Homo sapiens: one gene and its partner. The protein of the gene in region 2 purifies or fractionates together with the protein of the main gene of each other region. This does not show direct contact. Each region holds a gene or a part of one and is shown on either strand. Other genes may lie near its edges.

Region 1 (7,862 bases), on a different chromosome or scaffold from region 2:
TGTTTTTTGGGTTTTTTTTTCTGAGACAGAGTCTCACTCTGTCACCCAGGCTGGAGTGCAGCAGCACGATCTCGGCTCACTGCAACCTCCGCTTCCCAGGTTCAAGTGATTCTTCTGCCTCAGCCTCCTGAGTAGTTGGGATTACAGGTGCACACCACCACACCGGCTAATTTTTGTATTTTTAGTAGAGACGGGGTTTCACCACGTTGGCCAGGCTGGTCTCGAACTCCTGACCTCAAGTGATCTGCCTGCCTCGGCCTCCCAAAGTGCTGGGATTACAGGCGTGAGCCACCATGCCCAGTCAATTTTTGTATTTGTATTTTTTTTATAGAGACAGGGATTCGCCGTGTTGCCCAGGCTGGTCTCAAACTCCTGGACTCAAGCAATTCACCCACCTTGGTCTCCCAAAGTGCCGGAATTACAGGCGTGAGCCACTGTTCCCAGCCTAGAATTGGCATTTGAAAGTCTTTTAAGGCTGTAGCCACCTGGGAGGCTGTGTGCTAATGAGCACAGAATCTTTGGCCAGGTGGTGGGTACTCGAAATTCCAGCTACTCAGGAGGCTGAGGCAGAATTCAAGCAAGGAAAATTGCTTGAACCTGGGGGAGGTGGAGGCTGCACTGAGCCCACTGCGCTCCAGCCTGGGCGACAGAGCGAGACTCCATCTCAAAAAAAGAAAAGAAAAGAAAAGAAAATTGTCATTTCTCCATTTCACCTTTTTCTAACTTTAATTTTTAAGTGAGTCTGACATATAACAGAAAGTTAAATCCCAACATGCTCAATTGAGGCCACACACGGTGCTAGTGCCAGAGCTTGACCTCTGTTTCTCTGGCTCCTCCCTAAAGCACAAGGACATCGAAGCTCTTGTAGGGGCGGCCAGCCTCTCTGGAACCATGAAAGGTCCTATAACTTCAAGAGCTTCCATCAGAAAAAAAAAAAAAAAAAAGAAGAAGAAATAAGAAAGCCAGGAACGGTGGCTCACACCTGTAATCTCAGCACTTTAGGAGGTCAAAGCAGGAGGACCACTTGAACCCCAGAATTCGAGACCAGCCTGGGCAACATGGCAAACCAAATCTCTAAAAAACATTTAAAAAATTAGCTGGGTGTGGTGGTGCGTGCCTGTACTCCCAACTACTTGGGAGGCTGAGGAGGGAGGATTGCTTGAATCCTGGAGGTTGAGGCTGCAGTGAGCTATGATTGCGCCACTGCACTCCAGCCTGCACGACAGAGTGAGACCTGTCTCACAAAAAAAAAAAAGTTACTTAAAAGCTAAATTATTTTTAACTTGAAATGTTCCATGGACTTCACGAGTAAATGTTCTGGATTTGCCAAGCAGTTTTGATTTCAATTGGCCTGTCTCCTAATCATACACAGACTTACCTAACACAGATTCTGATTTTCAAGGGGTTAAGGGTGGATCAACCCAGAGTTAACCAACAGCAGGTCCTAAAATTCAGGTATGTCTGGCAGCAAACATCCTCTGTGGCATTTATAAACTCCTACTACCCAGGACGATCCACACCTGATTTACATTGGCTGCGGTCAATGCTGCTGTTTTCAGGAATATCCCTGGGTTGTTTCATTTCAAATCTACCTATTATTTCTTCAAGTGCTAGACCTGAAGAATTTTGGAAAATTAAGATCACTCCTAAGTTTCCACACCACCACGCAACTGGCAGCTAGCATCCCATTCTCTGAAATGCGGATGTTGTACAAATACTTTTTATAATAAGCTATCTGCTCAGCGAAAGTTTCCAACATTAGATGGCATGAAGGTCATAAGTAGCTCAAAAACCACTCTCTTAAAAGGAAAATAAGAACTCCTAAAACAGCCCTCCTCCCAAAAAAAAGGAAGTGGACCTTTCTGGGTTCCCTGGTTTACTAACTGGGCCTTTGGAGCTGTTCTCCTGACCAAGCCAACCCCATAACCACTCAAAAGGGATTTCCGTAGGTAGAACTTGCAAATGGTTAATGAATCAATGCCTTCTCCATAAAGCAAGACCCAAGGAATTACAGCAGTGAACAACGGTGGGGATACTGGATCCCCCAGAGGGTTCCATAAACGTTCTGCTTACAAGGAGGATTAAAGTTCTCGATGCCACTCTCTGGGACCCTGTCTTGATCCTCAGAATCTCAACCCTGTGGGGAGAGCAGGGTGGCTGTCTTACTACCAGACCCACTGATCAGAAAACGGAGGCTCCAGGAGGTATCTTGCTTGCCAAGAATCAAACCAGGGCCACCCAGTCCAGTCCTGTCTCCTTTTGTGCTGGCATCATTCTCCAGCTTGGCCAAGCTCAGAGGCAAGGCAAGGCAAGGCTGCAGCTTTAAGGGTTTAAGAGAGGAGACAGCCACTTTCATTGAAACAGCCCCAAACTCCTTATTAGTGGTCACCAGTTTACACAAGGGTAACTCGTTTTGAAAAACAATACGCAGAAAGTCGAAGTCAATCAAGCTCACTGAAACCTCTACTCTCCTCCCCCTGGCGCCCAAGAGACCTTGAACTCTTACCCAATTGCTCCCCCGATCTAAGGGTGTCCCGGCTCCCCCAGGAGATCCGGGTACCTGTGTTGTGGGGGCCGCCGAGACACCTGACTGCGAGGGGCACTGCCCTCAGGGATGCAGGCCGGGCTGGGGGGCTCCCGTGATCCATCGACTCAGCCCACCTGATGCTGCAGGGTTAGATTCGGGTCCCATGAGCATGCATCGAGCGCCTCTCACGTTAGGTACCCCCAGAATTCGCTGCCTCCCGAGGCCCATTCATCGTACAGATGGGGAAACTGAGGCTCGGAGAGTTAAAGTGGCTTAGCCCGTGGGGGGCGGCGGCGCGGGGACTGGACCCCGAGCCCTGAGATACCGAGCCCTAACCCTCAGCCGAGGGCCTGCCGGGCTCTCTCGGCCCAAGCTGTGGAAAAGTCGACCCTCAGGCCGCCGCGGGAGATCAGCTCTAGGGGAAGGGCGACGCGGAGGAGGGCCGGGGTGGGAGCCATGCCTTCCGCCCGAGCGTCGGGCCAGACGCGCAGTGCCCAGGCCCGAGGGCCCACCCCGACGCAGAGAGCCAGGCGGCCGCGGTGAACTGAGGCGCCCGGCAAACCCCGAGTCTTGGGGCCCGACCTCACCCACCCCGCCGTCGCCGCGAAAGATAGCACTCACCGCTGGCAGCCCGGCTGCTCTCTGCGGGCACCTGGGCAGGGCTCAGGCCCACACCACTGAGGCGCTACCACCGCCTTCGCCGGCCGCGGGGGTGGGGGCGTGGCCATTGGGCCGCCGCCCCGCCCACTCGAGCCGCGCGTGCATTCCCGGAGCCCCGCGCTTCCCCCTGCAAATTTGCGCTCTTGGTACGGCCCGGCCCGGCCACGCCCCCTCGCGGCTCGGCTGGGTCGCCCGGCAGAGAAATGAAAGTGCGTGGTTCCGGGGGTGGCGGAGTCGCCTGGAGACGGCGGCTGCGGCTTCTACAGCTCGGACCCTGCAGGTCACCGGGCCGGCTGCCCACCTTCCCGGGGATCACTGCAGAACTGTGGCTGTGCGCCCGCCGGTCTAGCCTCCTCCTTCGGGCCGCCGCTTGCTTGTGATCGCCACATTGTCTCCTCCACGGCCCTGTTTCCTCACCTGAAATTGGCGAGGCTTCAGGCCCAAGTCGTCTCCCTGGGTTCCCTCCATCCAGCCTGACGGCGGAGGGCGCGCGTTTGTTTTTAGAGACAGGGTCTCGTTCTGTCGCCCAGGCTGGATTGCAGTGGTGCAGTCACAGCTCACTGCAGCCTTCAACTCCTGTGCTCAGGCGATTCTCCCACTTCAGCCTCCCAGTAGCTGGGACTACAGGCGCGCCACCACACCTAGCTAATTTTATTTTATTTTATTTGCAGAGATGCGGTCTCGCTATGATGCCCAGGTTGGTCTCGAACTGGTCTCAAGTGATCCTCCCTCCTCGGCCTCTCAAAGCGCTGCGATTACAGGCGTGAGGTCCCACACGCTGCCTAGAGCTCGCTTTTGAAGGCCGGCCTGTTGGGGGTGGGAAGTGACCAAGCAGGAGGCAAGCCCTGGATGGAAGAGGAGTGGGGGGATACAGAGAGCTTCTGGGGTTTGAAAAGTCTGGCAGCCTTGGTTGGGGAGTGAAGCCCACCTCTGCCTCCTGCTATGGTTTCTACTTTACAGGGTCATGAAGATTAAGTGGTATAACCTTTGTTCCTAAAGGATTTAGAGCACGGCATTACTAAGTGTTCTCATCGCCATTGTTATTATTACTACTACTACTATTATTACTAGCTGTGCTGTGAATTCCTTTTGCAACACTGTGCAACTCACTTCTCTCAGAGCCCCTTCTCCATCTTTTAAAAATAGCCCAGGCACGGTGGCTCACGCCTGTAATCCCAGAACTTTGGTAGGCTGAGGTGGGCGGATCACCTGAGGTCAGGAGTTCGAGACCAGCCTGACCAACATGGCAAAACCCCGTCTCTACTAAAAATACAAAAATTAGCTGGGCATGGTGGCGGGTGCCTGTAATCCCACCTACTGGGGAGACTGAGGCAGGAGACCCACTTGAACCCCGGAGGCAGAGGTTGCAGTGAGCCCAGTTCACACCACTGCACTCCAGTGTGGCCGACAGAGTGACACTCCGTCTCACAAAAAAAAAAAAGTTAATTTATAAAATAATACATAAATATAACATTTATATATTATATAAATGTTATATTTGTTATATTTATATATTATATAAATAATATATATTATATAATAACATATATGTTACTTATTTTTTGAAACAGGGTCTCCCTTTGTCGCTGAGGCTGGGATGCAGCCTCGACCTCCTGGGCTCAGGTGATCCTCCTGCCTCAGCCTCCCTAGTAGCTGGAATTACAGGCATGCGCCACCACAACTGGCTAATTTTTGTATTTTTATTTTTCATTTTAAAGAAAGTTGATTGAAATTTTTTTGTAGAGATGGTGTTTTGCCATGTTTCCCAGGCTGGTCTCAAACTCCAGACCTCAAGCAGTCCTCCCACCTTGGCCTCCCAAAGTGCTGAGATTACAGGTGTGAGCACTGCACCTAGCCTAATTTTTAAATTTTTTGTAGAGACAGAGTCTCGCTATGTTGCCCAACCTGGTCTTGAACTCCTGGCCTCAAGGGATCCCTTGCCTCGGCCTCCCAAAGTGCAGGAATTACAGATGTGAGCCACCATTCCCATCCACTCTTCATCTTTAAAATATTGTGAAAATAGCAAAATCCTATATAAAGAGATTATTACCATGGCCCAGGTGCCAGGTTTCCTATGTCCAGGAACCAGTCCCTCCAACAGGTTGGATGAATGCAGTAGCCCTCAGGGTGGGGCACAATACCTGTCCAAAGAAGGGACTGAACTCCACACTCACCCAGAGAGAGAGCTGTGGAGAAATTCACCCAGATATCTGATACTCTGTGCCATCTTTTCAACACCCTGTTGGACATCTCCCCAGGATGTCCCAGTGAGGCTTCAAATTTGGACTTTGACTCCATGCCCCCTGCTTTTTTTGAAACCAGAACTCCTAAAACACTGAGTCTTCTCTGTCTGCTAATAATATAGCATCACTAAGGAAACATCAGGAAACAGGCATTTTACCTCTTTGGCCTTTTCCCATTGAACCAATAACTGGGTCCTATGGATTCTATCTCCAGAACCTCCTCTTGTCATCTTTTCTGCTGTCCCTGTTCCAGTTGGGGCCACGTGGGTTCACCGTTCACCTGGATGATCTCAGCAGCTTCCTGACTTTTTTGGGGGGGATGGAGTCTCACTGTGTCACCCAGGCTGCAGTGCAGGGGCACCATCTCAGCTCACTGCAACCTCTGCCTCCTGAGTTCAAGCGATTCTCCTGCCTCAGCTGCCTGAGTAGCTGGGATTACAGACTTGTGCCACCACACCCGGCTAATTTTTGTATTTCTAGTAGAGATGGGGTTTCACCATATTGGCCAGGCTGCTCTCGAACTCCTGACCTCAGGTGATCCATCTGCCTTGGCCTCCCAAAGTGCTGGGATTACAGGTGTGAGCCACCGCACCTAGCCGGCTTCCTGACTGTTTATGTCACTTCTCGTTTCTGCTACACCCACTGGCAAGGAAGCCTCTTTTTTTTTTTTTTTTTTTTTTTTTTTTTTTTGAGACAGGGTCTCACTCTGACACCCAGGCTGAAGTGTAGTGGTGAGATCTAGGCTCACTGCAACCTCCACCTCCTGGGTTCAAGCGATTCTCCTGCCTCAGCCTCCTGAGTAGCTGGGATCACAGGTGTGCACCACCACACCTGGCTAATTTTTGTATTTTTAGTAGAGACGGGGTTTTGCCATGTTGGCCAAGCTGGTCTCGAACTCCTGACCTCAGGTGATCCATCCTCCTCAGACTCCCAAAGTGCTGGGATTACAGGCGTGAGCCACCACACCGAGCTGAAAGCTTCTCTTCTTCAGTTACTGTCCTCCTCATTGTCCTACCTTCCTCTCCTTCCCTCCCCACCCCCACCCCGAAAAAACACTCTCGCTGGCCAGCTGGGGGGAAAAAAAGTAGGTTGCATCCACATCTCACATATTACACTAATATAAATTCCAGATAGATAAAATATTTAAATGATTTTTTAAGGGAGAAGGAAAAAAAAAGCCCCCAAAAGTCCATGGGAGAATTGGTGTTAATAATCCCCAAGAGGCATTTCTAAATTATGAAATTATGACATAAACTCCAGAAGCCATAAATGAAAACATTGAGAAATAATCTGGGCTGGGTACAGTGGCTCACGCCTGTCATCCCAGCACTTTGGGAGGCTGAGGTGGGAGGATCGCTAGAGCCCAGGAGTTCGAGATCAGCCTGGCCAACATGACGAAACCCCGTCTCTACTAAAAATACAAAAATTAGCTGAGCATGGTGGCACATGCCTGTAGTCCCAGGGGTGGCTGAGACAGGAGAATGGCTTGAACCCGGGAGGCAGAGGTTGCAGTGAGCTGAGATTGCGCCACTGCACTCCAGCCTGGGTAACAGACTGAGACTCCGTCTCAAAAAAACAAAAACAAACAAACAAGGGGCCGGCAGGGCACGGTGGCTCACACCTGTAATCCCAACACTTTGAGAGGCCGAGGCAGGCAGATTACTTGAGGTCAGGAGTTTGAGACCAGCCTGGCCAACATGGTGAAACCTCGTCTCTTAAAAATACAAAACATTAGCTGGGCGTGGTGGGCGCCTGTAATCCCAGCTAGTCGGGAGGCTGAGGCAGGAGAATCGCTTGAACCTGGGAGGCGGAGTTTGCAGTGAGCCAAGGGTGCACCACTGCACTCCAGCCGGGGTGACAGAGTGAGACTCTTGTCTCAAACAAACAAACAAACAAGGAAGGAAGCTCATTGCTTAAACAGAAAAATCTCTGAGACAAATTGATAAATATGCAAGGTACAGAACAGTAGGTATAGAATGTTACCGTTTGTATGTTCTCAAACAATTGTGGTGGGAAATGAGGGAAGAACATAGATACTAGGTATACATATTTGCCTGTATGTGCATGAAATACCTCCTGAAACAAAAACAAAAACAAAAAAAAAAAAAAGGGAGGGAGGTAAGGTTGGTTGTCTCTGGAGAACTGGGAGGAGGGAGACCAGGGGCAAAGGAATATATTTCACTATATACTACTCTGTATCATTCAAATTTTGTACCTTATGAATGTATTACTTATTCTAAGTCAAATACATAAATACCTTTTTTTGTTTTAAATTAGAGACTGGGTTTTGCTCTGTCGCCCAGGATGGAGTACAGTGGCATGATCATGGCTCACTACAACCTCTGCCTCCTGGGCTCAGGCAATCCTCCCACCTCAGCCTCCGAGTAGCTGGAACTACAGGTGAGCACCACCACACCTGGCTAATTTATTTT
Region 2 (7,468 bases):
CAGCCTGGGCCCCGGGGGCCAGAAGGCACGCCCACCTGAAACACCTTGTTCTGCAGCTTGATCTTCCGGTACTTCTCCTCCTCGGGGTGCAGGTGGATGTTGTCCAGGTACCTGGGGTAGGTGGAGAAGGTGAGTGGGGCACAGCCCAGGCTGCCCACCCGGCCCCTCTGTGCCTCCTGCTCCAGGTAACAGCAGCTCAGCCACACTTGGCCTCTAGTCAGAGGGAAGAAGCGGCCCAGTGACGCGAGGGCAGCAGACCATCTCCGGGTGGAAGGCACACCTCGGACACCCCATGGAGCCCACCCCTGGTGCCAGCAGGAGCCCCACGGAACCCCTCACCGTCCCACCAGCCCTGGAAGGGCACAATTAACCACAGCGGTGGGGAAGCCACAGTGCCGGAAGAGTGGAGAGCCAGAGCTGAAGGGCCGCAGTGCCAGCAGGGGGCTCCTGCGGGGTGCTCCCTCGGCGTTGGCGGGCAGCGTGGACCTCCAGGCCTGCCCCCGATCCTGAGACCCGGGGAGTGGGGTGGGACCCTGCCTCCTCCACATGTTCCCCAAGGAAGCCAGGGTGGGAAACCCCTGATTCCTTCAACACCTTCATTTTGCACACGGGTAAACTGAGGCCCAAGGAGGCCCAGCCCTTTGCCTGAGGCCTCTGGGTGGAGCTGCCTCACTCTCGGCCTATGCTCCTTCCCAACCCACCTCAGCAGGTAATGAGGGGGCCAGAGGGGGTGACAGCCCCAGTGGGAGGGGTGCTGGGATGAGCTGGAGGGGCCAGGCAGGGCAAAGGGGCCACACGCTCACTTGGCAATGGTGTCCACACCCAGCTTCACCCGGTCCTGGTCTTTGTTGAACGTGTAGATCTTCATGATGGAGGCGGCCACTGGGTCGGTGGAGAAGTGCTGGGAGGAGGGAAGCAGGGAAAGCCACTCACTGAGAGCCCGGGCCGCACGGCCCTCCGCTGCCCAGGTAACAGGGGCAGGAAAAGGAAGGCAGAACAGCGGCTTGGAGCGGCCCCAGCTGTGCGCTCATCACAGAAAGGAAAAGAGAGACCCTCCAAGACCGCAGCCCTGCCCACGCCCCAGGGCAGAGGCGACGCAGCCAAGACCCAGCAGAACTCAAGTCTCCCCTTCCGCCTTCTCAAGGCTAGATCCATGGGACTTGGAAGCCAGTGTGACGCGACAGAACTGTGCCTCACACTCTGGCTTTAGAACTCGACCTCAGTGCTGAGATCCATCAAGGCCACCGCCACTTACAGAACCTCCCGCCACCATGGACGCCCCATCCCTCCTGCTCTCGCAGCCCCATGATGGACGTTCTGGAACCACTCCCGGGCCTCATGTTTACAAAGAGACCGAGAGGCCCATCGTCCAGGGTCACAGGGATGGCAGGTGGCAGAGAGGACACAAATGAGTCTGCAACCCTCAATGTCTGAAACTCAATAGCTGGAAGACGGATACCCCCAGCCCCTGCCCCTCCCCGAGGTCCCACCTATCCACCTATGTTACCGGGGGAGGGGAGAAGTCATAGCTGGAACTCTGGGGGTTTCCCAGAACCAGCCCTGCTGACTGCGAACAGCGTCCCAGCATGGAGAGGCTGAGAACAGTACGTACCCTAAGACCTGGAAAAGATTGGGGCACAAATCCACGCTCGGCACAGCCATCACACACGGCCACACCCAGAGAGCCACCCATGGCCTGGGAAGCAGGGCTGCCACCCGCACCTCCCTGGGCTGCCCAGACGAGGGCGGGTGAACAGAAGGGCAGCCCAGGGCCATGTGTCAGGATTCGGGCCACCTGCCCAGGCAGCCCAGAGCTCCACCCACCACCCCCCACCCTCAACTGCACAGCAGGGTCCCTCAGCAGCCCCCTGCGTCACACGGACCAATGACCTACACACTGAGCCGGGGCTCATGCCAACTGAAAATTGGGACCCGGCCCAGTCTGCCGGTTTAGTTGCTGAGATGATGTGGGGAGCGGGACAGAGCACGTGGATGCAGAGAGGCAGAGCTGCCAGATGGGCATGTCCCCAAGACAACAGCTTCCTTGGGATCAGAGCGCCCGGGACAGCACACCAGCCAAGGGAAGCGTGTCAGCTCCAAAAGCGGGCCTCGGGCGTTTTGGGCGACTGGCTGCCAGGCTTAGGTCAGGAGCTGGGTACATGCACAGACAAGGGACGAAGGAACAGCAGCCAGGAAGGGGTCCAAATCCATACAGGAATGTACTTTGTGAGAAAGGTGGGATTTCACAGCTGTAAGCAAAAGACAGGTGCTCTCGACAGGTGGGGCTGAGAAGAAAGCTGAGCCAAGATCTAAAAAAAAAATTACATCAGCTCCATCCCACCATGTTACATAATAACATGCTCCAGCTGGATCAAAGCTTCAACCATGGAAACAAGCAAGCAGTCAAGGAGAAGCCAGAAGAAAAGCTCTGGAGGCCGGGCACGGTGGCTCATGCCTGGAATCCCAGCACTTTGGGAGGCCGAGGCGGTCGGATCACGAGATTAGGAGAGCGAGACCATCCCGGCCAACATGGTGAAACCTCATCTCTAAAATACAAAAGTTAGCCCGGGTGTGGTGGCGTGCACCTGTAGTCCCAGCTACTTGGGAGGCTGAGGCAGGTGAATTGCTTGAACCCGGGAAGCAGAGGTTGCAGTGAGCTGAGATTGCACCACTGCACTCCAGCCTGGTGACAGCAAGACTCTGTCTCAAAAAAAAAAAAAAAAAAAGCACTGGAGAGGCCACAAAAGAATTCTCTCAGCATGGAAATGGGGAAGGCATTTCTAAGAATGACCCCAAACCCAAAAGCCATGAACTAAAACTGACACATTTAATTATACAGAGATCAAAAAATCCTACACAGCAAAGTGACCATAAGCAGAGCCAACATAGAAGCAACTAGAGGGAAACATGTGCAACTCATATCATAGGCAAAAGCCTAAATTGCCTAATATGTAAAGAGTGCTGCCGGGCACGGTGGCTCCCGCCTGTAATCCCAGCACTTTGGGAGGCCGAGGCGGGCGGATCACGAGGTCAGGAGATCGAGACCATCCTGGCTAACATGGTGAAACCCCGTCTCTACTAAAAATACAAAGAATCAGCTGGGCGTGGTGGCGGTTCGCCTGTGGTCCCAGCTACTCGGGAGGCTGAGGCAGGAGAATGGTGTGAACCTCGTAGGCGGAGCTTGCAGTGAGCAGAGATGGCGCCACTGCACTCCAGCCTGGGCGACAGAGCGAGACTCTGTCTCAAAAAAAAAAAAAAAAAAAAAAAAAAAAGAGTGCCTACAAATCACTAATAAAAAGACAAACTATCTACTAAATAATGTAGAAAGGACGCATTCTCATATGAAACATGGCCAATCCAAAATAAGGAAAGTGCAAATTAACTCTATCCTGAGATGTTATTTTCACCTACCAACAGGCGTAAAGATCAAAGTTTGGTGATTTACAGTATGGTGAGAGGATGGGGACACGGGTGCTTTTGCACACACTGCTGGAGTGGGTGTGAGTCTGGAGAGTCTATGGAACTATTACTATTTTGTTTTGTTTTGTTTTTAAGATGAAGTTTCGCTCTTGTCACCCAGTGTCCACGCTGGAGCTCAATGGCGTGATCTGGGCTCACTGCAACCTCCACCTCCCAGGTTCAAGCGATTCTCCTGCCTCAGTCTCCTGAGTAGCTGGGATTACAGGCGCCTGTCACCACGCCTGGCTAATTTTTGTATATTTAGTAGATAGGGGGTTTCACTATGTTGACCAGGCTGGTCTTGGAACTTCTGACCTCAGGTGATCCACCTGCCTCAGCCTCCCAAAGCACTGGAATTACAGGCAAGAGCCACCGCGCCCAGCCACTTACTATTTTCTGAGAAAGGGTCTCACTTGTCACCCAGGCTGGTGTGCAGTGGCATGATTACAGCTCACTGCAGCCTCTACCTCCCAGGCTGAAGCAATCCTCCCACCTCAGCCTTCTGAGTAGCAGGGACTGCAGGTGCACGCCACCATGCCCAGCTATTTTTTTTTGTTTTTGGCAGAGACAGGGTTTTGCCATGTTGCCCAGGCTAAAGCCGAAGTTTCTGAGAACCTATTGATGGTGTTAAGTGAGGACTTGCTGTATTGGAAAAAAATGCTGTGGACGTTTTTATTTTTTGAGATGGAGTTTTGCTCTTGTTGCCCAGGTTGGAGTGCAATGGCGCTATCTCGGCTCACCACAACCTCTGCCTCCTGGATTCAAGCAATTCTCTTGCCTCAGCCTCCCGAGTAGCTGGGATTACAGGCATGTGCCACCATGCCTGGCTAATTTTGTAGGAAGTTCTTTCTGTATTGAAGCAAATAATACTTAACCTTTTATGAAAAACAACCAGGCCACGCGTGGTGGCTCACGTCTGTAATCCTAGCACTTTGGGAGGCTGAGGCGGGTTGATCACTTGAGGCAAAAGTTCGAGACCAGCCTGGCCAACATGGTGAAACCCCATCTCTACTAAAAATACAAAAATTAGCCAGGCATGGTGGCAGGTGCCTGTAATCCCAGCTACTTGAGAGGCTGAGGCACGAGAATCGTTTGAATCCAGGAGGCGGAGGTTGTAGTGAGCCGAGAATGCGCCACTGCACTCCAGCCTGGGTGTCAGAGTGAGACTCCATCTCAAAAAAAAAAAAAAAGACACCTAGTTGGGAGAGAGGAGATACAGATGCATACACAATGGTGTGCCTGGATTTGGGGTATCAGAGGAGGGGCTTCACTACTAGCAGTGGCCTCTGGGGACTCTGGGAGGGATCTGTACCACCTGGGCTTCCGATGGAGGGTGGCTCAGGCACAGGAAGCTACAGGTTGGGGCAGGAGCACACAGGGTGCCACTCACCAAGAGAATGGCCTCCTTGATGCAGGCGTCCCGCTGGTCCTTCCTCAGGGTGGCCCCAGTGAGCGGACAGGTGAAGTACACGCCAGGCACAGCCAGGTGGGCAGAGCCTTCCTCTCTGGGCTCAGATACCTGGGGCGGTGAAAGCGTCCAAGTCTGGACCGTGGACAGAGGCCACCCCGACCCTCGCCGAGCACCACAGTCCTGAGTGTGGCCCGTAGAACCAGACATCTCCAGCCCCCATGCTGTCCCTTCCACCTGGTGGCCGTGGGAGACACCCTGGCCAAGTGACCGGATCCCCGAGTCTTTTCCCTGGTATGTCAAATGTCCCTGTGGGGCCTGCTCAGAACTAAACGAGGTAAGGAACGGAAAGTACGGAGCAGCTTCTGACACGCAGGAAACACCCAGCAGATGGCAGCTGGGTTCCTGCTGGTCCTGTCCCCAAGCTGTTGAGGAAGGAGCTCTGTGTGGGTGTCTGCGGGCACAGTGCGCTGGACAAGGCATGACTTCTGGGCCTCCATTTCTAGGCCATCTCTAAGGTCCCTGCGTGCTAAAATTCACTGAATCCTCGAGGGTCAAGCTGCTTAGAACTCCTTTCAGCGGAGCTCTGAAGGCCCACCTCCTAGAGGAAGGCCTCCCTGATTCCACCCGTCTCCACAGAGCCTCTTGACCTCCAAGGCAGGCAGGACTGGGCAGTGCTAGGGGACAGGCTCTGAAACCACAGACTGGCTCTGGTCCTGCCTTTGCTGGTCCTGGGGTGTAGGAGAGAGGACAGCTGGTTTCACCTCTCTCAACCCCGGTTCTCTTTTTGAATAGTGGAAACTGTAACTGCATCTGCCCTTAAGGGGTTAAGGGGAGGGAGCGATGGGCTCGTGTACCTGAGGCCCACTTCTCCAGGCCTGAGCCGGCATCCTCAGCTGCCGAGCCCCGAAGGTCCCAGACAACACCGTGTTCCACCACAACCTGTGTCCACCTTGCAAGGCAAGGTTTTCCAACAGCCCTTGAGCCCCAAGGGCAGAGGCCACATCTCCCCCGTGACACAGTCAAGCTGTCCCCACCCCTTGGCATGGGACAGTGCCACCAGTGGCTGTTCTTACCACGTTGGTCCCTGGGGCCTCGGGGCTCCCGCTGACGGTGGCTTCGGCTTGAAGTTCCTTTCTCACTGGAAGGCAGCCCAAGAAAGAGAGGCAGAGACGGGATAGTGAGCACGCCGCTGTCCTGGCCCAAGCCCCCTCATTCCCGGGGTGGGCCTGGGGGCCACGCACACCGCCCCAGCCTGCTTCTGCTGGAGGTCAGGCTGGAGGTCCCCTGCAGGACTTGCTGTGCAGCCACCCCTCAGCCTGAGCAAGCACCCCACTGCCTGGGCAGCCCGTTTCTGCTCCAAGTCTCTGCTCCCACCCCCTCCCCAGGAAGCTGCCCTTCCCCCAGCACCTGCCCTTGATGAGCCGCTCCCAAGGGTGACCCTCACACCCCCACGGTTGCTCATGTGACTTCTGCATCCAGGGCCAGGCACCAGGGCCGAGAACCTCAAACAGCCCCAACCTGGGCCCGAGGAGGGCCATATCTCACCCTGGTTTCGGATGGTGTCCTGCGATGTGGGGCCCCAGGCCCGGGACTGCTTCTGCTCCAGCCGGGCTAGGGCGGCAGCGGCTGCCATCTGTGCCTCATTGGTGGGTCCCTGGCGGGGCGGCCTGGGGGCTGGCTGGTTGGGCTTCTCTTTGTGGGCCTTTTCCCTGGGAACAGACCGAGGGAGAGTGAGTGTATCCTCCCGAGGTGGCCGGCAAAGCTGACGTGCAGTCACACAGAGGAGCTTCTGCCCCTCCCCAGCACCATCAGCCAGACGTGTCCCTGCCTATGTGGGCCAGGACACCTGGTTCCCAGGGGCCACCTGCAGCCACCAGATGGTTCTACTGCAGGCGGAAGAGCCCCTGGAGGAAGGAGATGCTGGTTCCACTCAGCTCTGCACCATCGGGCAAGTCCTGCCCCCACTGGCCCTCAGCGTCCTCATCTGTAAAATGGGGTGACAGCACCCCTCCTGAGGTGAAGGCACCTTGACATCCTCAGTGCTTTTTTTCTTTTTGAGACAGGGTCTTGCTCTCTCACCAAGGCTGGAGTATAGTGGCACGATCATGGCTTACTGCAATCCTGAGCTCCCAGGCTCAAGGAATCCTCCCGCCTCAGCCTCCCAAGTCGCTGGGACTTAGAGGCAAGCATCATCATGCCTGGCTAATTTTTCTATCGAGACAGGGTCTCGCTATGTAGCTCAGGCTGGTCTCGAACTTTTGCCTCAAATGATCCTCCCACCGTGGCCTCCCAAACTGCTGGGATTATAGGCATGAGCCACAGCACCCAGCCCGCATCCTCAGGAATTGAGGAGACTCAAGGGGTGTCACATCCTCCCTCCCTCCCTGCCATAAGACTCTCCACCCTCAGGTCACAGCTTCGTTTGCTGAGCACCTACTGTGTGCCAGGACCCTGCTGGGAGCTGGTCGGCTCGCTTGGTTTACTCCTCCTAACAAGCTGCCAGGGAGGCCTCACCATCCCATTCCTAAACCCAAGAGGGACAGGAAGTCCGGGCGATGTGCCCCATGCCACGCCACCCTCGTGGCGGGACCCTGGGGA

The links. Proteins that work in one complex are often made in the same cells at the same time.
Region 1: the proteins of UBXN6 (region 2) and POR purify together in Homo sapiens (affinity purification with mass spectrometry; 4 studies listed by BioGRID and IntAct, with this or other methods). This does not show direct contact.

What each region holds. Positions count from the first base shown.
Region 1 is NC_000007.14:75,910,466-75,918,327, reverse strand, and holds the start of POR (NADPH--cytochrome P450 reductase), read right to left. Parts: upstream 3,174-7,862; 5' UTR 3,149-3,173; exon of another isoform or gene 2,561-3,148; intron 1-2,560. UniProt on the Homo sapiens protein: This enzyme is required for electron transfer from NADP to cytochrome P450 in microsomes. It can also provide electron transfer to heme oxygenase and cytochrome B5.
Region 2 is NC_000019.10:4,447,515-4,454,982, forward strand, and holds part of UBXN6 (UBX domain-containing protein 6), read right to left. Parts: intron 6,580-7,468; coding exon 6,416-6,579; intron 6,009-6,415; coding exon 5,944-6,008; intron 4,979-5,943; coding exon 4,850-4,978; intron 3,317-4,849; exon of another isoform or gene 902-3,316; coding exon 804-901; exon of another isoform or gene 112-803; coding exon 36-111; exon of another isoform or gene 1-35. UniProt on the Homo sapiens protein: May negatively regulate the ATPase activity of VCP, an ATP-driven segregase that associates with different cofactors to control a wide variety of cellular processes.